Linked DNA regions of Homo sapiens. The protein of the gene in region 3 interacts with the protein of the main gene of each other region in a pairwise test. Each region holds a gene or a part of one and is shown on either strand. Other genes may lie near its edges. The genes, in order: SCG3, MPC2, DNM1L and MIEF1.

Region 1 (7,658 bases), on a different chromosome or scaffold from region 3:
TGTCTCCTGGGTTCAAGTGATTCTCCTGCCTCAGCCTCCCAAGTAGCTGTGACTACAGGTGCCCACCACCACTCCTGGCTAATTTTTGTATTTTTAGTAGAGATGGGGTTTCACCATGTTGGCCAGGTTGGTCTTGAACTCCTGACTTCGGGTAAGGAAACTACCACATTGGCTGCCAAATGAAGAATGAGTTGGGGAGAGGCGGAGTGGTTGCTGGGAGAACTGTAGATTTTGCTATAGTTTACATGAGACATAATTGGAGCTTGGACAAGGATTGGAGTTTGGACAAGTACAGAGAAAAACAATTGAGAGATACACAGACATAAAATTAGTAAGTTTTGGCAGATTAGAATTTGAGAGGTGAGGGAAAAGATAAATAGTTTGATCCTAGATTTCTGTCTTTAAAAAACTGGATGGATAGTAGTGCCTTTCCTAAAGAAACAGTACTCTAAGAGGTCTAGGTTGTGAAGTGGACACAGATTATGAGTTTAATCATGGGCATGCTAAATTTGAGGTGCTTCTGACACTGCCAAGGGAAAATGTCGAATAGGTAAACAGATAAATAGGTCTATAGCTAAGAGAAGTCTGGCCTAGTGATATGGGATGTTAGGATATAGATGTAATTGAAGCCACGTAAAGGTTAGGATGACCTAAGGAGAAAAGATATGGCTAGGAGGAAACACTGAAAAGGAAATAGTGGATATTTCACCTTTTTTGTGCAGGGTGGGAGGGTACTTTACTGATCTAATTATTTGAAAATTATGATATTTTGTGTGTACTCATTGTTAAAATAAATCTGAATGTTCAAATGAATTTAATACCATAAAATACAAATACTAGATTAAAAAATGTTTTCAGAGCATCACTAAAGGAATTTTTAAAGGGAAAATAAAATATGGCACTCTGTGGAGCTGGGGCTCTACATGTTATCAGTAAATATATGCTTTATCTCAATTTTGGACTTGACTAATAAAGGATTATGAATGTTTAAAAGATATTTTTAAAATATTGGACTTTCTCTTAACCCATTATAGGAAACTCCACGTTAACAAAAAGTTCTTTTTTTCTCATTTACCTTGAAATTTATGATCCAATCCACTCTTAGTAGAGTCATAATCATCGATCAGTTTTCGATTCTTGGTTGAATCAACATCTTCCACATTCAACTTATTATCAAGTGGGGAGCTTCTTATAGATTGTCTTTCTTTCTCAATTTTTTCCTTTTCTGTTATTGCCTTTAGCAGGTTCAAGTTATCAACAAAAGAATAGTTGCTCTGACCTGGCTTGTTTTCTGGAAGAATAGCCCCAAACCCAACACAGCCATTTTAGTTCAGATTCTCATAGCCTACATTATTTAAATTAACATCAATATGATTTCTTTTTACCTGGAGGATATGTTTTTTTAATCTTGTCTTCTTCTGCTTCAGCAATCTGTGAAGCAAACAGGAGATAGACTTGGTTTAAAATCATTGCTCCACTACTTACCAAGTACAAGAGCCAAATGATTTAATCTCCATGGGATTTAATTGTCTTGTTTGTAAAATGTGGATAATTCCTATTTCAGAGCACTGTTATAATAATTAAATGAGATAAAATTAAGGGTAGATGCTCAGTCAGTGTTAATTTCTTTCTCCTATAATATTGTTGAAAGAGAAATCTCTGGTAAATTAGGCAATCTTACAACAGAGTGGATGTGATGCTGAGCTTACTGGGTTATTATATAGTTACTCTATGTATTCATTATACAGAACTCAATGTAAATAACTGCTAGGGCATAGAATTTACCAAAACTAGATTTCCCGTCCTAATTTCTGTCAATTAACTATTAAGTTCCTGATGTTTGTAAATTCAAAATGACCAAAATGTCACAGCATAATTACATTAAATAATAATAACTAAATCAAAATGAAATAGCATTCATAATGTTACTTTTGACCTACCTGTTCATTCAAAGGTCTTTCTGCACTTAATTCTCTATTATGTAGAGATTTGTCTAGAATAAACACATGTGAATATAAATTTAATTGTGCGTTGAAGGACAAAATATGCCTCTTATTAAATAAAATTTTTATAAAAAGGAAAAATATTAGGAGAAATAATTTTGGATGACTATGAAACAAATGCATATTAACAAAGATTATCAAGATTATACAATAATAGTAATTATCAATATTGCCTTGTTTATTATCTTGGTGTATTTCTTGAGCTGACAGAATCACACTTTTTTTTTTTTCTGACCAGAAATTTAACATATAGTTCTAACACTAGGGTTATCAGCTATTCTCAGCTAGAGAGAGCATAATTTGGATTGGTATTATTGGCACACTAAAAGCTCTTTCATCATATACTGCATATATAATGAATAGACTGTCTGAGAAAGGTTGTAAGGCAACTAGAAAACAATCCAAGCCACTTTAGGTGAAAAAGGTTCCCTTCCCTTTTCAAAATAAGATCTTTAAAAACAACCCATATTATTGCTCTATCATTTTAAAAGTGAAGAAAAAAAATCTGTCTTCTGTCTCTAAATTCGAACTGATTTCTCTGTCCGTATTCATGGATATGATTTGATCAGAAAACGCGTCAGGGTGATTTACAGCTCACGTATTATGCCAAACTTTACCTTTTCGTGGCGAAATAAAAGGAAGGTAGGAAGAAGAAAAGTGTTCACATACCTTGGCTTCCTCCAGGTTTGGGGAAAGCTTGAATCGGGAGCACTAACACCAGAATCCAAGTGCCGGTCCCGAGGAACCCCATTCTTCCACGCTCGGCTTGGGTCACAGCCCGGCGCTGGGCTCCTGGAGCTGTAGCTTTTGTTATGAATGAAAAGGAGGAGTAAAAACAGGAAGAGCCAGGAGGGTGGGTGTGGGGCGGGAGAGGGGCCGGGACTGGGCGGCTGCAGGATCTCTGACACTCGACGGTCAAGGGATAAGCAGGGTTGGGGCGCGCGGGAGTCAAGTCTCCAGGTAGAGGGGAGCGCTGTCCGCCCTGTGGGTGCTGAAGTTCCTGTGACGCGGAGACTGCGCGCCAGGGCGTAGCTTTACTCTCGCTCCCTCCTGCAGAGGAAGTGAGGAAGGAAGCGCATGCTCCATGCACGCCAGAGGCGGGAGGGGATGGCGTCGGTGACTCCAACGCTACTCCAATCCCCCGGGAATGGAACAAAGGAGGGGCGACCGGCCAGCTGGTGTATTTTCTGTGCTGCAGTCCTAGGGTGCTCCTGGGCTCAGGGTCAGCTGGCTTGTCCTAAGCGTGACAGAATTGTCCCAACCTCTCAAGTAAATGTTACTTCAAGGGCCAAATGCCTTCTCTGCCTGTGCACCTGTCAAGGAGATTTAGATAACCTTGTGCGAGGAGTTCTGCTTCGGGATTCTTCTTTTGGGATATCTGCTCCAGAATCCCTTCCTTCCATTCACCTCCTGTACCCAAAAGGTAGATATAATTATAATCTCTTTAGAAAAGCCCTGCCTTTTGTGGTCTGTGTTGACGTATCAAGCATCCCTCAGCTCTACCGAGGCTTTTGAATTGGGAAATTCAAGGAACAGTCTTCCAAATAGTCAGATTGCTGCAATACACTCTCACTCTCTGATGCTGAAACACAACAACAACAGAAACAGTCCTGAGTAGACGAGCAGCAATGGCAAATTCTCCTTTCCCCACCAAGTGGAACCTCCCCCACTTTACACACACACACCACACAACTAAATTAGAAAAAAGAAGCTGCATTTCTGTAAAATCTTGCCCAGAATTTAATTATGCCCAAAGACCTGGCTGTTCCAGGGGGTCCTTCAAGAGAGGGGATAGTCATGAAAAGCATTTTTCATCTTTACTAAGTCAGGGAGGTGCTTCCTATGTTCTGAGAATATTCCCAGAAGCCTAAGGTTATTGTATACAAGGAACTATCAAAAGACTTTAAATGATGAAAACAAGCAACATTAATGTGAGCAGGATGCTGAGTAAGCTCTTTAGTCTCTGATTTTTAAACAGAACTTGGACCTTTTCCTCTGGACTGCGGCATGCTGGGAACCAGTCTGAATAATGACCAAAGAGAAGGATTCAGCACAATCAGGCCTTTGATTTCTGCACCCTCCTTTTCAAGGAGGAAGTTATTCAAGTACCTAAAAACAAACAAACAACCAAGCTGACAAACAAATCTCCCTTGCTCCGGAGGTTTTTGAGTTTGGAAGTCACTCAAATACTTCCTTTGAGGATCTAAAGAGTATTCTAAATCTAACAGCTCCTTCAAAACAAAAAACTCTTTATTGGCAGTAATAACATAGCATTATTATCCCAGTATACTGCATTAAAAAATTAAGTCATATTTTAAAATCCCAGCTGAATGAAGGGTATATTTCCTTAGTTTCCTTTTCTTTATGATGGAAATGACAGGCTCTGTTTACCTCACACTGTTATTATGAAGATCAAATGGGTACATGTTTTGAACTAGTCATTTTGATACCAAGAATATTTTGATACAGCCTAAGAAAATAAGTCATGAAACGTTTTCAGCTTTTATGAAACATTACCCAACGCTATCTGAAATAGCCATTCACTGATCCTGAGACTCACTGACCTAATCCCTCAGCTTCACTTTGTCCTTTGTCCCATTCCTGACTCATTTATCTCCTCAATACATGTTTGCAATTGGGAGAGATTCAGGATGGGATGAAGGTCAGGGATGTCTGTTGAGTACATTGCATTGCTTGCCCAAAAGAAAAAGGGTATTTTGTCTCTTTCTGCCATTTGGACTTAAAGTGATTATGTTAAATGGACACTAAATCTAGGATCATGTTATGTTTCTGATCAAATGAGTGGTGGAGCATTGAGTAAAACATAGGCATGAATTAGTTTACATTATTCAGCCTTATGGATGATACCACTGGACTTAGTATAGGTCTGTGAATGGAGTAATCCTAAATTGTATTTATTCATCAATTCACTTAACAGGTGTTTATTGAGCATCTGAAATGTACCAGGTATTGAGATAGTTGCTGGGTGTACAAAGACAAGTAAGACACTAGTCACTGCTAGTCCTATAGCCTAGTAGAGAGAAAATATTGTGAATATAACAACAACTATTTGGTGAACAGGTTTCACATGCAACACACTATTCTTATTGAAATATAAGTGAATGAATAAGTACAAGAGAGTGTTATGTGTCCTTTTTGTATTTGCAAAGCTCAAGTAGAGTCTGTCCAAATAATGGAATGAATGGTCAGGAAAGATTTCAAAGAGAAGACAGCCCTTTTATTAATAATAAAAAGATTAAAATATTTGATTCTTATGTGTGAGAACACTATAAACATGGAATAATATGAAAATATATGTTGAAATTACAAGACAAATAACATTGACACAGATCAGATAATTATTAAATCAACAATGTACAATGCACAGTGAGTTTGTCAATGCTGCTTGTTCATTTGTCAACACAAATGGAACAATTGTGGTGCGCTCATTCACTAGTGGAGAATATTATTTTTGAGCTGAGTCTTGAAGGTAGAGACATTTGTAGGATGCTTTCATTTATTACAGAAAAAATATATTAATTATTATTGTATTTTTATAGAAAATTTCAAGCACAAAAGTAGAGGAAATATTGAAATAAGCATGCATGAATCCACTACCCAACCTCAATTATCATTAACTCATGACCATTCTTTTTATTCTATATTTCCGTCCACTTCATACCCCAATGAGTTGTTTATCCATTAAAAACCCCAGACTTCATCATGAGGTCAAGCGATTGAGACCATCCTGACCAACATGGTGAAACCCCGTCTCTACTACAAATGCAAAAATTAGCTGGGCGTGGTGGCACGCGCCTGTAGTCCCAGCTACTTGGGAAGCTGAGGCAGGAGAATCACTTGAACCCGGGAGGTGGAGGTTGCAGTGAGCCAAGGTCACACCACTGCACTCCAGCCTGTGAACAGAGAGAGACTCTGTCAAACAAACAAACAAACAACAACAACAACAAAAACCCAGACTTCATACCATTTCATCCATAAGTATGTCAAAGTATGTCAGTATATTTATGTAAAAGATAAGGATTATTTTTTCTAATGTTACTGCAATGCTTTTAACATACCTCCTCCTCATTATAATAATGCCATAGTATCATCAAATATCCAGTCAGATTCAAATTTCCCCCTCTTGCCTCATACTGTAAATATTTTTACAGTTGGTTTACTTGAACCACGATTGCATTTGGTTGACATGTGAGAGACACATATGAGTAAGAATGGAAGGGCAGATGTTGCAAGGTTTTCTTTGACTTCCTAGATGAGATCATTTCTTCCTCAGGATACCATGCACACTCCCAGTTGGGCATATATCCCATATGCTGCTTTGTGTAGATGCTTTCTTTCTCCTTATTTCCAAAATAATAAATACATATTGAAGGAAAAACTTCCGAAAATACAGATAAGGAAAAAGGGGAAATATCTGATAGTGATAACCAATGCAAACTTTAGGGGTATGTCCTGTTGTTGCACATTTTTTCTAAGAAAACTTTACACATATATTTATAAAATTATATCTCTCACTGTGATTACATGCTTACATATCTGGCTTTCTACCACACTAGACTGTGAATTTTTCAAGGAAAGGATCTTGTTTCACTCATCTTTGATTTCTCAGCCCTTCTTACAGTGTCTAGAAATCCATCTGCTTAAATAAATGAAGGGATGGGGGGTTTCCTGTTTACCTTTGGTCTTCAAATCCTGAGGCTATGATGGCTATCCCACATTGGAGGATCTTGACACTGTCAGGACAATTCTCCACTCAGCACTTTCATTACAAAGGCGTAGTCTCACAGAAGAGATGTTCATGAAAGGGCTAAGAATAGAGAGCCTGAGCTGGCAAGGCCCTTGCAGTTACAGAGTTATAGGAATGGATCTGTTGCTGTGAAAGAGACTGACACAGGATGCCAGCACTAGAGGTGGCTGCTGATATAGACGAAAGGAGAAATAAATGTGAAATCTAGAAATTCACCATCAGAGGAAAGTTGAAATAACAAAGAATAATGTAAATGAGCAAATAACAAGACTTAAGGAAAGTGAAGGCATGGAAATGAAAAGAAAAGGGCACATGAATAAGGAAAGTGGGCCCAAATGACAAGATCATATAGGCCACCTACAGACTGAAAGGTGCCAGAAATAAATCTGAGAGTGGGTAGGAGGAGAAAGTAGTAAACTTGTCTTGTTCACTTATCTTGCTTGTACCATAGTTGAACCAGATTGGGTCAGTCACCTACCCTGGGGGCATAGGAGGAAGATGCAAGAACTATGTTTGAGTGTTCACTCCAGAACCACAAGGGTAGAATGGCTTCCCAGAAGGAATCAGGGTGAGGCTATAAAGTAAACAGAAAACAACAGATGCACATGACACCATTAAATATAGTATTTAAAATGAATTAGCATTATTGAGTGAAAATATCAGGTTGCCTATCAGCAATGTGTTTCCTATTATAGAAAGTGTGTGTGGCTGGGCGCAGGGGCTCAGGCCTGCAATCCCAACGCTTAAGGAGGCTGAGGCAGGAGAATCTCTTGAGTCCAGGAGTTTGAGACTGGCCTGGGCAACATAGGGAGACCCCATCTCTCCTACCCCCACAAAATAAATAAATAAATAAATAGATAAATAAATAAGCTGGGCATGGTGGCGCA
Region 2 (3,933 bases), on a different chromosome or scaffold from region 3:
ATAACTAGGCTATGTGTTCCAAGTGGCAATGAGAGTTTTTGACAGGATACATATTGTTACTTTTTGAGATGGGAGTTTTGCTCTTGTCGCCCAGGCTGGAGTGCAAAGGCGCGATCTCAGCTCACTGCAACCTCCGCCTCCTGGGTTGAAGTGATTCTCCTGCCTCAGCCTCTGGAGTAGCTGGGATTACAGGCGTGCGCCACCACACCCAGCTAATTTTTGTATTATTAGTAGAGACGGGGTTTTACCATGTTGGCCAGGCTGGTCTCGAACTCCTGCCCTCAGGTGATTCACCTGCCTTGGCCTCCCAAAGTGCTCGGATTACAGGCGTGAGCCACCGCACCTGGCCAAGATTTAATTTTTAAGATTAAAAAATTGGATAGATTAAGAGTTTTGGGGCAGAAAAGAAAAGAAGCATGTGATGGTTGTTTGTCAATGAAACTTCTGAGAAACAAGAAAGGAGGACTGCCTATGATTGTATCTAAATGCTACAACAAATTTGACTGACAAGAGGGGCTTAGGAGACCCCGCACAGAAGAGGTTTTAATGAAAAGGAAGTGAAACACCAAGCTCACATAAATTTTTAATAAACTTTTTTGTGTCTATGTCATATTTCATAATGTTTTTCCTAAATGCTTAACCTAGGAAACACATGTGTGCACACCCATGCCAAACACACAAATGAATTTAACAGTGTGGTTTATGAAATGAAAGCAATAATAGTTTGACTCTTCAGAACCTCTTCATTGTGGCCTATGTCAAGCTCTCTAATCTTTTCTCCTCAATGGTAGGCCATGGTTAAGGGACAGATGATAAAGTACAAGGTTTTCAATTGCTAACTGCCAAATTTTCATAGGTTATAGTATTACTCAAAAAGTTGTTTTGTCTCATTTCTTCAAATTTTGAAATAACTTGCTTTGCTGACTCATCTGACTATATTTTTAATGAGGACTGGCTTTATTAGCACTTTTAGAAAAAAAGCTCTGCACTCCACACTGAAAGTCAAATCAAATAGATAGTTAATTATTTGTAGCGTGGAGTAATGTATGCTCAGTCTCTCCTCACAACGGAGCCAAAGGTCACAAACATTTACAGAAAACCTACTTATGTCCCAGGTACTCTGCTAGGTACTTTCCTAACTTGTCTAAAGTCACAGCATAGGCTGGGTATGGTGGCTCATGCCTGTATTCCAGCACTTTGACAGGACGAGGCGGGCAGATCACCTGAGCCCAGGAGTTCGAGACCAGCCTGGGCAACATGACAAAACCCTACCTCTACAAAAATACAAAAATTAGCTGGGTGTGGTGGTGTGTGCCTGTAGTCCCAGCTGCTCGGGAGGCTGAGGCAGGAGGATCACTTGAGCCCAGGAGGTAGGGTTTGCAGTGAGCCGAGATTGTGCCACTGCACTCCAGCCTGGGCCACAGAGCGAGACCCTGTCTCAAAAAAAAAAAAAAAAAAAAAGTCACAACAGATAAGTCATAGAGCTGGGATTCAAATTCAGGTCTGTCTGAATATAGAGTATTTTCTGCTACATTATCAGTTACTGAGGGTAATTGAAAAATTTAACACTTATCATGGACCAGGCACTATGTTAAAACATTATCTCATTAATCTTTACAATGATCCTATTTAAAAATCTGTAGCTGTAAAAGAATTTTATACAACATTTATACAAAAATCATCAAGATTCTTCATGGCAAGTTAAAATGTTTTTAAATAGTTTGAGGTCATCTTGATAGTCATTCCACTACCCATTTCTCAGTCTCTTCAGCAAAATTTCCTTTCACTTATAGCTAGCTACCTGACCATCCTACACTAAATAAGCAGATAATTTAATCTTCCAACTTCTTGAATTTGTGTGTTCTTTTATGTACATATGTTGGCTGACTGGAACAGAAGGAGGCAGGGGGTATATACGAGCAAGTATGGTTTATTACGGACAAATGGTAGAAAAATGTTACTAATATCCATAGATAAGTTCCTTAAGTCATGTAGAGAGACTGTTATTAAAAGTTTGCTGCATTTTTCTATTGAATCAAGAACTAGCTACCAGTTACAGTGCCTTCTAAACACACAGTTAGCTTTGCTTTATCAATAACCAAATAATAAACTAGGTCCCAATGGTTTTGTCCACATCTAGATTGTTCAGGTGATCAGGAACTCTTTTATTTGTGTGCTTTAGCTTTTAGTTCTTGGTTATATCTATAAAGAAAACAGAAAGAAAAATAATCATCAATAATAATAGACAAATTTATGGTAAGGAGAGAATGGGAAGCATACTCCATTTCTTCTTTCTTGGTGGTCAAGTAGCTATACAGTTGTAAACAGAATCTTCCCGGAGGGCTTACAGGTAGAAACAGGCAGAAAGGAAAGGATTCAAAGAGTTCATTTGCATCTGGATTTTGTTTCAGATAATAAGAGCACAACTGCCAAAAACTTTTTTTTTTTTTTTTTGAGATGGAGTCTCACTCTGTCGCCCAGGCTGGAGTGTAGTGGTGTGATCTCGGCTCGCTGCAAGCTCTGCCTCCCGGGTTCACGCCATTCTCCTGCCTCAGCCCCCCGAGTAGCTGGGACTACAGGCGCCCGCCACCACTTCTGGCTAATTTTTTGTATTTTTAGTAGAGATGGTGTTTCACCGTGTTAGCCAGGATGGTCTCGATCTCCTGACCTTGTGGTCTGCCTGCCTCGGCCTCCCAAAGTGCTGGGATTACAGGAGTGAGCCACCATGCCCGGCCTGCCAAAAACTTTTAACAGCTTAGCTGACATATAGTTTCCTGTGCAAAAGTATTATTTTAATAAAAATATTCTCATTCTGGAATTCTACAAGAACGTGACAAACTTGTGAACATATGTATAAAATTTAGTAAAATGTGGTCACCTAGAATTTTAAAATTTATACTCGCAAAGCACCTTTCCTAAGAATAAGATCAACAGGTAAAGTAAAATATACTAAAGTAATCACTAAAGTAAAATATACTTCTAACCACTAAGGTAAAATATACTTCTGTGATGCAGGCAGGCTATTGGGTTAACAGCCTGTAAACACTTAAGTTCACAAACGCTAAGGACCATTTCCTCAATTCTCAATCCAAAGAAGTAACCACAGAGCCATAGTCTTTCCTTCCCTTCTACCATACCTTGGGCTTCATTTACTATTCCTCCTAGCTTATAATGGAATGGAGAGTAGTATAAAAGCATAAGAAGGAACTTATTCCATGAAGCCAACCATACCTCCTAGGTTTCTCAAAAGATCCTGATTTCAAATATTTGATCATAATGTCATTATCATAAATCACTGACAATATTAACTACTGAGTAAATAGTTTAAAAATTTCCAGTGCTCATGGAACACTTTCCAATGAAAGCAAAGACCTCACTCTACGTATCATTTCCAATACTACATAACAATACACTTAAGTTCCAATTTATTATATACAATTGAAAGTGATAAAAGGTTTACATAAGAAATTAATAAATCATAAACTGTATATGTTGTCTTAATAAAAGAGATTATGTGAGATGGTTAACCATCTAAATGATGCACAGTTAAATCTAAAAACTAGGTAACATACTGCTTAACTGATTTTAGTCAGTTAACTAGTTAACTGGTTAACTTATTTGTAAACCCCTAGACTTTTCTAGAAATGTTAAATTTCTACTTTAGATACTTCTTGTCTTAGCATTATATATGAATCTTTTAAAAAAATTAGTGCCATCTCCAGCCTGGGCAACAGAGCGAGACCCCGTCTCAAAAAAAAAAAAAATTAGTGCCATCTAAGTAGCTTTTGCAACAGTTTTAAAAATATCTCTGGTAGGCTTACCTCCAAATACGAAAAAGCTGAGAGGCTCCTGCTGCCCCCACAAAGAAATTAACAGCAAACAGACTCCAATTTTTTGGAATAATTACAAGTGAGTATCTTGACCAAATAAACC
Region 3 (7,035 bases):
GCTACTCGGGAAGCTGAGACAGTAGAATCACTTGAACTCAGGAGGCAGAAGTTGCAGTCAGCCAGGATCACGCCATTGCAATCCAGCCTGGGCAACGAGAGCGAAACTCTGCCTCAAAAATAAAATAAAATAAAATAGCTAAACTACAATGTTTCTACCATATAGCTCAAACCCTCTACCTAATGACAAAATATAAATATGAAGTTTAAACCACTTCATAATTTGTAGTTAATATGTGGGGTGTTTTTTGTTCTTAAGAGACCAGGTCTCACTATGTTGCTTAGGCTGGAGTGCAGCAGCTATTCACAGCACAATCACAGTGAACTACAGCCCTCAACCTCCTGGGCTCAAGCAGCCTTGCCACCAGGTCTCCCAAGTAAAAGGGACTACAGGCACAGGCCACCACACTTGGCTTAAAAGAGTGTTCTTATATGAACTTAATACCCAAAATCCAAACTTTCTAAAATACTGCAGACCTAACAGTCCTTAGGAAGGAATTTTTTCTTGGTTATAAAACTATAGGTCCAGTGCTTTCTAGATCACTAAGAGAGAGATTCAGATATCTGATAAGGCAGAATTATCGTCTGTGAAAATCCCCACTTCTTCCATAAAAGCATGAAAAAGTGATATGAATCTACACATCCAAGAAGCTCGATGAACTCAAAGCAGGATAAACACAAAGAAATACACACATTGAGATAAATTATAATCAAACTGTTGAAAGACAAAGACAAATGCTAAAAGCAGCAAGAGAGAAGCTAAGAGTCATGAACAAGGGATCCTCAGTAAGACTAACAACAGATACAACAGACTTCTCATCAGAAACCATAGGGGCCACAGCAGCTCTGCCTATGGAGTAGCCATTCTTTTATTCCTTTACTTTAATAAACTTGTTTTCAAAGAAAGAAAAGAGAAAAGAAACCATAGGAGCCAGAGGCAGTAAGATAAAGTGCTAAAAGAAAAAACCTCCCCATCAAAAATTCTAACTTAAAATGGTTAAGATGCCAATAAAACCTGAAGCAACCTATAGAGGCAACACAATCCCCATCAAAATCCCAACTGTCTTGTTTACAGAAATGGAGAAGCCAAATCTAAAATTCATACGGGGCCCACACAGTGGCTCACGCCTGTAATCCCAGCATTTTGGGAGGCCAAGGTGGGCAGATCACCTGAGGTTAGGAGTTTGAGATCAATCTTGCCAACGTGGTGAAACCCCATCTCTACTAAAAAAACAAATATTAGCCAGGCATGGTGGTGGGCACCTGTAATCTCAGCTACTTGCAGCCTGAGGTGGTTGGATCGCTTGAACCCAGGAGGCAGAGGCTGCAAGTGAAACGAGATCACGCCACTGCACTCCAGCCTGGGCGACAGAGTAAGACTACCTCTCAAAATAAAATAATATAAAATAAAATTCATATTGAATGACAAGGGACCCCAAACAACCAAAACAATTTTGAAAAAGAAAAACAATGCTGGTAAAGTTACACTTCTCAAATTTTAAATATACTCCAAAGCTACAGTAATCAAAGCAGAATAGAACTGAGAATCCAGAAATAAACCCATATAATAAATCTTTGGCTGGCCAGGCATGGTGGCTCATGCCTGTATTCCCAGCACTTTGGGAGGCCGAGGTGGATGGATCACCTGAGGTCAGGAGTTCAAGACCAGCCTGGCCAACATGGCAAAACCCCGTATCTACTAAAAAAAAATACCAAAAAAAATAGCCCGGCGTGATGGCAGGTGACTGTAGTCTCAGCTACTTGGGAGGATGAGGCAGAAGAATCGCTTGAACTCAGGAGGTGGAGGCTGTAGTGACCCAAGACTGCATCATTGCACTCCAGCCTGGGTGACAGAGTGAGACCCTGTCTCAACAACAACAACAAAATCTTTGCTCAACTGATTTTCAACAATGCCAAGACTATTCAATGGGGAAAGAACAGTCTCTCCAACAAATGGTACTAGGTCAACTGGAGAAGCACGTGCAAAAAAAATGAAATGAACCCCTACCTCATACCATACCAAGATGTACTCAAAATGGATCAAAAGCCTAAATATACAAGCCAAAACTATAAAATAATTAGGGGAAAAAACATTAAAAAATAAAAAAAAATCTTCACGGCTTTGGATTTGTCAATGCCTTAGATATGACACCATAAAGCAATAAAAGGAAAAAAAAAGATAAATTAGCCTTAACCAAAAGTAAAACCTTTTGTGTATTGAAGGACACTAACAAGGAAGCAAAAAGACAAGGCCGGGTGTGGTGGCTCATGCCTATAATGCCAGCACTTTGGGAGGCCAAGGCAGGCGGATCACCTGAGGTCAGGAGTTCAAGACCAGCCTGGCCACCTGGGCAACAGAGCGAGACTCCATCTCAAAAAAAAAAAAAAAAAAAGAAAAAAAAGAACTCTTACAACCTCAACAATAAGACAACCCCAACAAACACATGAAAAGATGTTCAACACCATTAGTCATTAGGGAAATGCAAAACAAAACTTCACACCCATTAGGATGACTATAATCAAAAACAGATAATAACAAATGTTGACAAAGATACAGAAAAACTGCACCCTTCAAACATTGCTGGTGGGAATTTTAAAATGGTGTAGCTGCTGTGGAAAAGTGGTTGCTCAAAAAGTTAAACAAAATTACCATAGAACCCAGTAATTTTACTCCTAGGTATATACCAAAATAACTGATAACAGGTACTCAAATACTTGTACACCAATATTCACAGCAGCACTATTCACAACAGCTAAAAGGCAGAAACAACCCAATTGCTCATCAATAGGTGATTGAATAAACCAATGTGGTTTATACATATAACAGAATATTACTCAGCCATTAAATGGAAAAGAAAGAAGAGGGAGTGACAGCTCAATAGTAGTTTTCTTTCGTGATGAAATTGTTTTGGACCTAGACAGAGATGTCATTATGAATGCACTAAATGACACTGAATTATACATTTTATAAAAGGGCTAATTTTGGCTGGGCACAGTGGCTCACACCTGTAATCCCAGCACTTTGGGAGGTCGAGGTGGACGGATCACCTGAGGTCATGAGTTTGAGACTAGCCTGACCAACATGGAGAAACCCTGTCTCTACTAAAAATACAAAATTAGCCAGGCATGGCACATGCTTGTAATCCCAGCTACTTGAGAGGCTGAGGCAGGAGAATCACTTGAACCCGGGAGGTGGAGGTTGCTGTGAGCCGAGATCGCGCCATTGCACTCCAGCCTGGGCAACAAGAGCAAAACTCCATCTCAAAAAAAAAAAAAAAAAAAAAAGGCTAATTTTATGTTCTGCAAATTTCACCTCAATTTTGTTAAGTTAAAAAAAAGCAGCAGCTCATAATCTATACAAAAAAAGAGAAAAACATAAATTTATCTAAGAACACAAGAAAACAATGCATAAGCAGGAATTAAATTATAGTCAATAAATGCTAAAATGTAGACAGCAGTGCTCATGGAGAAAAAAAAGAGAGAGGGACATCAAACTATGAAAAAAGTTGTCCATAAGAGAAGGAAATGGCATAGGTGTCAAAAAGTGCTGTTTTTCAAATAAAGAATTCCAGAATGATTTAGCGCTTAAAAAAAAAAGATAACAACAAGTGTTGATAAGGATGTGCAGAAACCTGAACCCTGGAGGGGATGTGAAATGGTGCAGCCACGGCTGGGCGCAGCAGCTCACGCCTGTAATCCCAGCACTTTGGGAGGCCGAGGTGGGTGGATCATTTGAGGTCAGGAGTTCGAGACCAGCCTGACCAATATAAGGAAACCCTCGCCTCTACTAAAAATACAAAAAGTAGCCGGGCAGTAGTGGCGGGCACCTGTAATCCCAGCTACTCAGGATGCTGAAGCAGGAGAACGCCTTGAGCCTGGGAGGCAGAGGTTGCGGTAAGCCAAGATAGCGCCACAGCACTCCAGTCTGGGCGAGAAAGTGAGACCCTGTCTCAAAAAAAAAAAAAAAAAAAGGTGCAGCCACTATGGAAAACACTTTGGTAGTTTTTCAGAAAGTTAAACGTAAGAATTATCATATGAATCAGCAAGTCTACGCTTAGATATATACCCAAGAGAATCAAAAATACACATTCACTGACCGGGCGCGGTGGCTCACGCCTGTAATCCCAGCACTTTGGGAGGCCGAGGCGGGTGGATCACGAGGTGAGGAGATCGAGACCATCCTGGCTAACACGGTGAAACCCTGTCTCTACTAAAAACAAAAAATTAGCTGGGCGTGGTAGCGGGCACCTGCAGTCCCAGCTACTCGGGAGGCTGAGGCAGGAGAACGGCGTAAACCCGGGAGGCGGAGCTTGCGGTGAGCCAAGATCACGCCACTGCATTCCAGCCTGTGTGACAGAGCGAGACTCCATCTCAAAAAAAAAAAAAAAATACACATTCACACAAAAACTTGTAAACGAATGTTCGCAGAGCATTATTTATTCATAATAGCCAAAAAATAGAAACAACCCAAAAATTCATCAATTGATGAATAAACTGTGCTGTATCTATACAATGTAATATTTATTATTCTGCCATGCTACATAATGGATGAACCTAAAAAACATTATGTTGAGTGGCTCATGCCTATAATCCCAGCACTTTGGGAAGCTGAGGCAGGCAGATCACTTGAGGTCAGGAGTTCGAGACCAGCCTGGCCAACATGGCAAAACCTCGTCTCTACTAAAAATACAAAAAAATTAGCTGGGTGCGGTAGCACGCGCCTGTAATCCGGGCTGAGGCAGAAGAATCACCTGAACCCGGAAGGTGAAGGGTTGCAGTGAGCTGAGATTGTGCCATTGCACTCCAGCCTGAGCAACAGAGCAAAACTCTGTCTCAAAAAAGAAAAAAAAAAAGAATTATGTTGAGCAACAGATGCCTGGCACAAAAGATCAAATCACATATTATAGGATTCCACTAATGTGAAATATCCCAAATAGGCAAATCCATACAGACAAAAAGTAGATTAGTGGTTGCCAGTGATACCTGCTTTTTCCAGTATCATGCATTTTAAAATCCAATGATTCACTAATATATTTTTCAAATTAGGATCTAGGAACCATCTGTATCAGAGTCACCGATGGACCCTCACCCACGTGGGGCTTATAAAATCAAAACCTGTCAGAAGCTGGGGGAGGACAAAACGGGGGTGACTGCTTATGGGCAGGAGTTTTCTTTTTCAGGTAATGAAAATATTTTGGAATTACACTATGGTGGTACAACTTTGTGAACATACTAAACGCTGCTGAGTTGTGTATACTTTATAAGGGTGAATTTTGTGTTACATGAATATTTCAGTATTTTTAATGTTAAATTTTTAAAAGTTGATTTGCAAATTAGAAATTAAAATCCAAATTACTGGCCGGGCATGGTGGCTCATACCTGTTATCCCAGCAGGAGGCTGAGGCAGGCAGATCATTTGAGGTCAGGAGTTTGAGACCAGTCTGGCCAACGTTGTAAAATGCTGTCTCTACTAAAAATACAAAAATTAGGCCGAGCACAGTGGCTCATGTCTGTAATTCCAGCACTTTGGGAGGCCAAGGCAAGTGGATCATGAGGTCAGGAGTTCGAGACCAGCCTGACCAACACAGTGAAACCCCATCTCTACTAAAAATACAAAAATTAGCTGGGCGTGGTGGCATGCACCTGTAATCCCAGCTACTCAGGAGGCTGAGGCAGGAGAATCACTTGAACTCGGGAAGCGGAGGTTGCAGTGAGTTGAGATCGCACCACTGCACTCCAGCCTGGACAACAGAGCAAGACTCCATCTCTAAAAAAATAAATAATAAAATAAAATAAAATCCAAATTATTTTTAGGCTAGGTGCAGTGGCTCACACCTATACTCCTAGCACTTTGGGAGGCCAAGGCAAGAGGATCATTTGAGCCCAGGAGTTTGAGACCAGCCTTGGCAACATAGTAAGGCAGCGATTTTAAATTTAAAAAAAAAAATTAGCCAGATGCGTGCCTGTAGTCCCAGCTACTCAGGAGGCTGAGGCAAGAGGACTGCTTGAGCCCAGGAATTTGAGGTTACAGTGAGCTATGGATTATGCCACTGCACTCCAGCCTGGGTGAAAGAGCCAGACCCTAAAAAAATAAAAATAAAAAATCCAAATTGTTTTTCCTTTTACATTTGTCTGAATTACTGAAGATAGAATGCTGAAATCACTGAAATAAAAGGAAAAGTGTAAAGTACATTACTAGGAACACTAAGCCAGAGTCTCAGGTTAATGTCATCTGTATTCGGATACCTATATTGGGTGGTAGTTTAGATTACATACCTGGAGGGCTCCCCTTTCCAATTCTTAATTTAAGAAATAGGATTAAATTTCCCAAGTTGAGTCACAAAAGTTGTTTTAAGTCTTATCTCCTCTACTTGCAAAGTTACACCATGGTCTAAAAGTATCATCAGCCTTCTCTCTCTCCCCACTGTGTCTGTTCATTTCACACAGATGGTCTCTACTAGAAAAAATAAAAGCAATTTATTTAGCTAACACATAAAACATGTGAATGACTGATAGCTGTAAACAGGATTCCCTCACCTCCACTCCTCCAAGTCCCTAGCCCCCAAATGAGTGTTACTTGGGCATTTCATAAAACCAAAGTTTAAAACATTTAGGGGTCAGCAATGGTTGCCTGGGAAGTGATATATTAAAGCAAGAATGCCACCAAAGTCAGCATGGTACTGGATGGTAGTATGCCATAGATTCAACCTCCCCTAATTTTCCTGCTTTTTCCAGTATCATGCATTTTAAAATCCAATGATTCACTAATATGTTTTTCAAATTAGGATCTAGGAACCATCTGTATCAGAATCACCTATGGTCCCTCACCCAACCCAGGCTTATAAAATCAAAATCTCTGGAGACAGGATCCAGGAAACTTAGTTTCAAAGTGATTCTTAGGCCAGGCGGGGTGGTTCACACCTGTAATCCCAGCACTTTGGGAGGCCGAGACGGGTGGATCACCTGAGGTCGGGAGTTGGATACCAGCCTGACCAACATGGAGAAACTCTGTCTCTACTAAAAATACAAAATTAGC
Region 4 (7,035 bases), on a different chromosome or scaffold from region 3:
GTTTCTCCTGCAGGGACATGCGGAGTCGTGACTTCTTCAAGTCTACCTGGCCCTTCCTGGCCACTGGCTTGGGCCGGGGCGGGCAGAATGTATCTGCCAAGGCAAGAGAGAGAGGCACGTGAGCTCTGCCCATGCCTGCTCAGTCCACAGCTGCCTCAGCCCCAGAAAGAAGGGCCTGGCATGGAGGGCAAGTGCTGGCACAGTGCCTGGCACAGATGTGCTCAGGAAACATCTGCTGAGTGCAGGAGTGGTACTGAAAGTCCAGAGAGGTCCCAGGAGGGGCAGCAGCCCTTCTCACCTGTGTCGAAGGTGGAGGAGTCTGTGGGAAGGGTCTGCAAGGACCGGCTCAGGCCCGTCTTCATGTCCCTGTTCAGCAGTCGTGGGGAGCCCATCCAGTTGGGTTCTTCCCAGCTCCTTTTCCCCGAATGGCTCAGGCGGGTGGGGCTGGTAGGGGCACTGATCGCCCGATCGTACATCTGAAATAGCAGAGAGGACACAGGACATAAACCTGCCCTCTTTCCCTATTTCCTTCCAATTTACTTCCTCCCCAGAAGCTCTGTCCTAGTAAGTTCTTTTAGTAATTTTGTTTTTATTTTAGATTATAGAATACTTTGCTCCACGCAGAAAATCTCAGGGAAGACTACATGATATAAGACATAGATAATCCACGTCATGACCCAGAGAAAACTGTTTGTAATATCTGGTATGTTTCTTTCTAGATGCATGTAATGACGATCACTCTATACATACTTTTGAAACCTGTTTTTTTCACTTATCATTGCGATCATTTCCTCCTAGAACGCTTCGACATTTTCTTTCTATAAAACATTACATCTTATGACCATACCACTACATTCCACCCCCAGCCCTGGCTGCATGCACTTACCCGCTTAACTGCCAGCGTGGCGATGCCCAGCATGGCCGCTCCACCCACCCCCAGCACCAGCCGGGCATTGGAGAGCACAAAGTCAATGGCCGTGCCAATGCCATTGTCATCCTTCTTGCCTTTGCGCTCACCAGCGCCTGCCATTGCTCATCTGAGAATGAAGACAGAACACGGCCATAAGTACTGGGACCCCAAGAACCTCCCTCCCCTAACAAGCCAAACCCCAACAAGTACAGGGTACTCTGTGAGTTCCAGCAACCCAAATCTTCTTGCCTCCAGCACTGCATGCTTTAGGGTCTGGAGGGAGCTACAATGTCCCATGATAGATCAGGATGCAAGGAGGAGGGGCTGATCTTGGGTATTGTAGGAAAACTTTCCCCAAGCTAGTGAGATTAAGAAAGCATTAAGCTCAGTGTCAGTCCTTTTTTGTATTACAATGAAGTACCCCACCATGCAAAACAGCCCTCTCTCTGCCCCTTTACAATGTTAAAATGCAGGTCTCTACCCCTTCACAATGTTATAATGCAGGTCTCTACCCCTTCACAGGGGTTATAATGCAGGTCTCTACCCCTTCACAGGGGTTATAAAGCAGGTCTCTACCCCTTCACAGGGGTTATAATGCAGGTCTCTACCCCTTCACAGGGGTTATAATGCAGGTCTCTCTACCCCTTCACAGAGGTTATAAAGCAGGTCTCTCTACCCCATCACAGGGGTTATAATGCAGGTCATTTCTTCGTCCTTTGGCCACTACTTTGTGGAAGGTTAGATCTGAGCGGGACCTTGGAGCTCATCTAATGCCATCACATCACCTCACACAGAGGTTCTCAACATAGGGAGGTGATGTGTCAGGTCTCAGAGAAAAGAAATGGTACAGGCGCAGTGGCTCATGCCTATAATCCTAGCTACCCGGGAGGCTGAGGTGGGAAGATCGCTTGTGGCCAGAAGTTCAAGACCAACCTGAGCAACATGGCAAGACCCCCATCTCCAAAAGTAAAAGATAAAAATAAATTGAGCATGGTGGCACATGCCTGTAGTCCTATCTACTTAGGAGGCTGAGGCAGGAGGAATGCTTGAGCCCAGGAGTTTGAGGCTACAGTGAGCTATGATCACGCCACTGCACTCTAGCCTCAGTGACAGAGTGAGACCCCATCTCTTAAAAATAAAAATAAAAAAACAAAATGGGCCGGGCACGGTGACTCACGCCTGTAATCCCAGCACTTTGGGAGGCCGAGGCAGGCGGATCACCTGAGATCAGGAGTTCAAGACAAGCCTGGCCAACATGGAGAAACCCCGTCACTACTAAAAATATAAAATTAGCCAGATGTGACAGCGCATGCCTGTAATCCCAGCTTCTCAGGAGGCTGAGACAGGAGAATCCCTTGAACCCGGAAGGCGGAGGTTGCAGTGAGCCGAGATCACACGATTGCACTCTAGCCTGGGTAACAAGAGCTAAACTCCGTCTCAAAAACGAAAACAAAACGACACAGTCATCTCCAGAACTCAGGACTCCCCACTCCTTGTATGACGCTTTTTCTACTGTACCATGCTCACCCTTACCCAAATCAAATCGGCCCTTATTCTATCTACTTTCTGCAAACAAAACACAAAACAACATGTACCAAACATCCTGCACACGGAACTGAAACTACACGTCCATATGTGAGAAAGGTCCCTCCATGGACCCTCCTACTTGACAAATGCTTTGTTTCTTGAGAGAAGTGCGCAGCGGGGACTATAAAAGCTTAGGTGAGACTGGTATACCGGGAGATAAAAAACACAAAGGACACTGCAGACTCGACTGCTAACTGGAAAACAAAACACCCATCTGCTCGATTACACCTGGAAGAGGAACTAAAAATGTGTTCACCTGAAAGAAGTACTTGGGCACCACAGCGAAGAGGCTGGCCTCCAGTGCAGTGCTCAGGCCAGTGCTGCTCCCGACTACAGTGGAGTCTTCCTGACTGCAGCAGCAGCAGTCCCCAGATAAGCCCATTCCTGTGGAGTTAGAACCCTGGGCCTGAGCCGGATAAAGGATGACAGTGTGATTCAGATCGGAATACCACTCAGCATGCTGCCACTCTCCTCTATAATATCCCGTGTCCTTCACACCAGGAATGACATAAGGGAAAACAAAGTCGGATACCATTTAGCGTCCCAGAATGGGAGGACATCAAGAGACAGGATCAGCCGGGCGCGGTGGCTCACACCTGTAATCCCAGCACTTTGGGAGGCCAAGGTGGGTGGATCACGAGGTCGGAAGTTCAAGACCAGCCTGGCCAACATAGTGAAACCCCATCTCTACTAAAAATACAAAAAATTAGCCAGGCATGATGGTGCATGCCTGTAATCCCAGCTACTCGGGAGGCCAAGGCAGGAGAATCACCATTGCACTCCAGCCTGGGTGACAGAGCAAGACTCCGTCTTGAAGAAAAAAAAAAAAGGATCACTGAGGATTATCTTCCATGTAAAATAACATTCCTTCTAATACCGTGTTACAAGTGGATATTTCTAGCTTCCACATCTTACGCTCCTGCCTCTACCTCCCTGAAAAACAAAGAAATATTTCTGACTCTATTATTCCAGTAATTGAGTTAACTAAGAGTCACTGTCAAGCCCAAAAATATTTTTTTCCCTAACTAGAGTTCACACCTTGGGGGTACTTTCCTTTTCTCTACCATTTACAGTCAATAGAGGCTTCAGGTTTAGGGACATGAAAGACTATTTCGCCAAACCGAGTACATTCCCACCTCAAATGCACAGAGCAAAGCCAGGGAGAAGAGATAACGTTTGTATTTACAGGTGGAATCAGGGAAGAACAGCAGACACCCTCTCTCCAGTGGCCACTGAGATAGAGACGGGACAAACCAAACTTAGCAGAGGCAAGATAACCCAATCAGGAGAAAAGCAGAACACTATACATTTCCCCACACATAACAATGTCTCTTGTTTTAACTCTTTACTGAAATATTTACAATAGGGAGAGCCACTGGACACATGTGCCCTCTAAATGATCCTTGAGTGTGATGCAGCAGGGCCAGAAGGGCACCTCCTCACTCAGGGCAGAAGCAGCCTCCCTGGACCATTTTAGTCCTTGGTGCCCTTCTGATGACTGGTGAGAGCAAGGTGGTGCTACAGATGACAGAACAGAGCGTGGGTTTTAGAGTCAGAAATCCTGAGATACAGAACTTGCCTTGAGCCCTGACTTATTAGCTGGGTGACCTCAAATGAGTTACTTAACACCTCAGCTACGAAAAGGGGATAATGGTCCCCGCGTGGGACCAAATCACAGGGTTGTAGTGAGGAAAAACCATTCACTGCAATCCTGTATGTGAACGGTATAAACTGTATTGCAGTGGATGGTCTATAAACTGTAAAAGTGCTCCACAAATGAGTTCTCCTCTAGTCTTTTAAGATTTCCATCCACAGGACAAAGGTCAGCTTCCAGAAGTCAGTCAGCAACCCAGACTGTCCTCTGAGTGACAGTGCACCTTTTGAGACTGCTCTAAAACGGCCTTGAAAATTCGCAGTGATGCCATCTTGGACTTGAGATCAAAACTATTTTTTCTTTTTTTTTGAGACTGAGTATCACTCTGTCACCCAGGCTGGAGTATAGTGGGGCAATCCCGGCTCACTGCAACCTCCACCTCCCAGGTTCAAGTGATTCTCCTGCTTCAGCCTCCCTAGTAGCTGGGATTACAGGCATGAGCCACCACACCCTGCTAATTTTTTGTATTTTCAGTAGAGACAGGGTTTCACCATGTTGGCCAGGCTGGTCTCGAACTCCTGACTTCAGGTGATCTGCCCACCCTGGCCTCTCAAAGTGCTGGGATTACAGGCGTGAGCCAACAGCTGAGATCAAAACTATTAAGTTGGGCCAGCTTGTTAAGCCTTTTCGGCCGGGTACGGTGGCTCACGCCTGTAATCCCAACACTTTGGGAGGCCAAGGTGGGCAGATCACGAGGTCAGGAGATCGAGACCATCCTGGCTAACACGGTGAACCTCTGTCTCTACTAAAAACACAAAAAATTAGCCAGGTGTGGTGGCAGGCGCCTGTAGTCCCAGCTACTCGGGAGGCCGAGGCAGGAGAATCGCTTGAAGTCGGGAGGCAGAGGTTGCAGTGAGCCAAGATTGCACCCACTGCACTCCAGCCTGGGTGACAGAGCAAGACTCCATCTCAAGAAAAAAAGGCTTTTCCTACTGTAGTGCAATAGGCACCCCCCGCCCACCATCCAAGGACGGACTGACATCACAGACCTGGTGACCTGGAACAGAAGACGGCATCCACAAGCTCAACAGACAGACACGGACCTTACTTGAAAAGTTAATTCAACTTGTTCCAGTTTAAACTGCTTCTCCATGACACGCTCTCCACTCAGGTTCTGCTGCATAAGCTTACAGCCTACTAGCAGGTAAGAACTCCACCTCCAATCGGGACTGTCATGAAGGAACCCCATTGCTTAATGGGTACAGAGTTTCAGATGTGCCAGATGAAAAGGGTTCTGGGGCTCTGTTACCCAACAATGTGAATATACTTACTACTACTGAACTGTACACTTTAAAATGGTTAAGATGGTTAAAATAAAAAACAAAGAAGGAACACAGACCTGGTGGGCAGAACTAGGGATGGAGAATTTCAGCTCTGCCAATATTTCAGGCAAGTTATTTAACCTGTCTCGCTAGATACAAAAATGGGAACAGAAATGCTCATCACCCTAATATAGTTAAGGATGATGAATAATGGAGGCCTTGCGGCTTCCTAGGATGACAGCACAGAAGTGTGAAAGTTCCAACTTATTTTAATTGAAAAAGCCATAGGCCTTTTTATAAACCTATCTTGCTTGAGTATGTACGAGACTAGGTAGCAGATATTGAGTGTGTATTATGTGCTGGCAATTTTACACTTATTATTAATTCCCTCAATCCTCACAACAACAATCCCATGAGATCAGTAATATTATCCCAAATTTAAAGGATGAAGAAACTGAGTAGTTTCTGTAACTGACCCAAGGTCACTGTGTCAGTAAAGTATGTGACCAAGATTTGAACCCTGAGATCACGCGGTGCGGAGAACTAATCTACAGGGGTCCTAGGTACTTGCTCCACACCTTGTTCCCATCTCCACTCCATTAACCCCCAGACCATATGCTTCTGGGGGACATTTGGGCTCATTCACTGCTGCATCCCCAGGGTGTGCAGTGTTTGATGCATAGGGAGTATATGTTGTGGGAATGAAGTATTAACTCTACGGCGTTTTGTTTCTTGGTTTTTTTGAGGGGGTAGTGATAGCAGCGTGTAGCCCAACTCACAGCCAAAATATATTAGGAACACAAAGATTTCAAGGAACGCCCTAATTCCCTCCTAGATCCGCTAGCCAACCCTCCCTGTGCAGACAGGCTCCCATGGGCATCACCCCACCCCTGGCCCTGTACTGCCAAAGGCAGATATGCCAATCCTAAGTGGCTGAGAAGAACCAAAAGTCATTACATAAGGCTCTCTTCCTACTTTCCCTCCCCCAGTTAAAAGCAGCACCCTCCACCCAGCTGGCAGGCCTTACACCCAGTTACTCTTCATCTTTCTCTCTCCTCCTCCTGCCTCAGCCAACTGATCACCAAGTCCCACTGCTGTACACACTGTGTTTATATGTGGCCACCCCCACCCCTCGGTCCCTCAATCTGATCTGGCTACATCCACTGCCTCTAGTATCTCTCATCAATTTATTCTTCACACTGCCACTGGTATGCTCCCTCTACGATACAAATGTGGCTATGTCATTCCTCTGTTTACAGAGCTGTGATGGTCCCCACATAAGAAGATATACATTACAATCTCAACTTGGAGTCAACGTCCTTCCAGACCAGGCCCAGCCTCAACTCTGGCTATTTGCCTTACAGGGGTACCATGCTGGCCACATCAGACTTAAGTTTCCAGACTACAAAGTGCAGTTTCTGGACAGGCAGAGCTGTTTGAACCTATAATCCCAAAGCTTTGGGAGGCAAGGGTGGGAGGATCGCTTGAGGCTAAGAGTTTGAAAGCAGCCTGGGCAACATAGCAAGACCGTCTCTACAAAAAAAATAAATAAATAAAAAATTAGCTGAGCACATTGGTACATGCCTGGCGTCCCAGCTACTCAGGAGGCTGAGAAGGGAGGA

What was found.
Region 1: the proteins of DNM1L (region 3) and SCG3 interact in a two-hybrid assay, tested with the Homo sapiens proteins (one study listed by BioGRID and IntAct).
Region 2: the proteins of DNM1L (region 3) and MPC2 interact in binary tests that used the Homo sapiens proteins (3 or more experiments, as listed by UniProt).
Region 4: the proteins of DNM1L (region 3) and MIEF1 interact in binary tests that used the Homo sapiens proteins (3 or more experiments, as listed by UniProt).

The regions. Positions count from the first base shown.
Region 1 is NC_000015.10:51,676,852-51,684,509, reverse strand, and holds the start of SCG3 (secretogranin-3 isoform 1 precursor), read right to left. Parts: upstream 3,008-7,658; 5' UTR 2,755-3,007; coding exon 2,673-2,754; intron 1,994-2,672; coding exon 1,941-1,993; intron 1,432-1,940; coding exon 1,386-1,431; intron 1,292-1,385; coding exon 1,076-1,291; intron 1-1,075. UniProt on the Homo sapiens protein: Member of the granin protein family that regulates the biogenesis of secretory granules. Acts as a sorting receptor for intragranular proteins including chromogranin A/CHGA. May also play a role in angiogenesis.
Region 2 is NC_000001.11:167,916,158-167,920,090, forward strand, and holds the end of MPC2 (mitochondrial pyruvate carrier 2), read right to left. Parts: coding exon 3,822-3,933; intron 2,203-3,821; coding exon 2,166-2,202; 3' UTR 518-2,165; downstream 1-517. UniProt on the Homo sapiens protein: Mediates the uptake of pyruvate into mitochondria.
Region 3 is NC_000012.12:32,682,295-32,689,329, reverse strand, and holds part of DNM1L (dynamin-1-like protein), read right to left. Parts: intron 1-7,035. UniProt on the Homo sapiens protein: Functions in mitochondrial and peroxisomal division.
Region 4 is NC_000022.11:39,505,290-39,512,324, reverse strand, and holds part of MIEF1 (mitochondrial dynamics protein MIEF1), read right to left. Parts: intron 2,904-7,035; exon of another isoform or gene 2,754-2,903; intron 1,038-2,753; 5' UTR 1,031-1,037; coding exon 887-1,030; intron 477-886; coding exon 299-476; intron 94-298; coding exon 1-93. UniProt on the Homo sapiens protein: Mitochondrial outer membrane protein which regulates mitochondrial fission/fusion dynamics.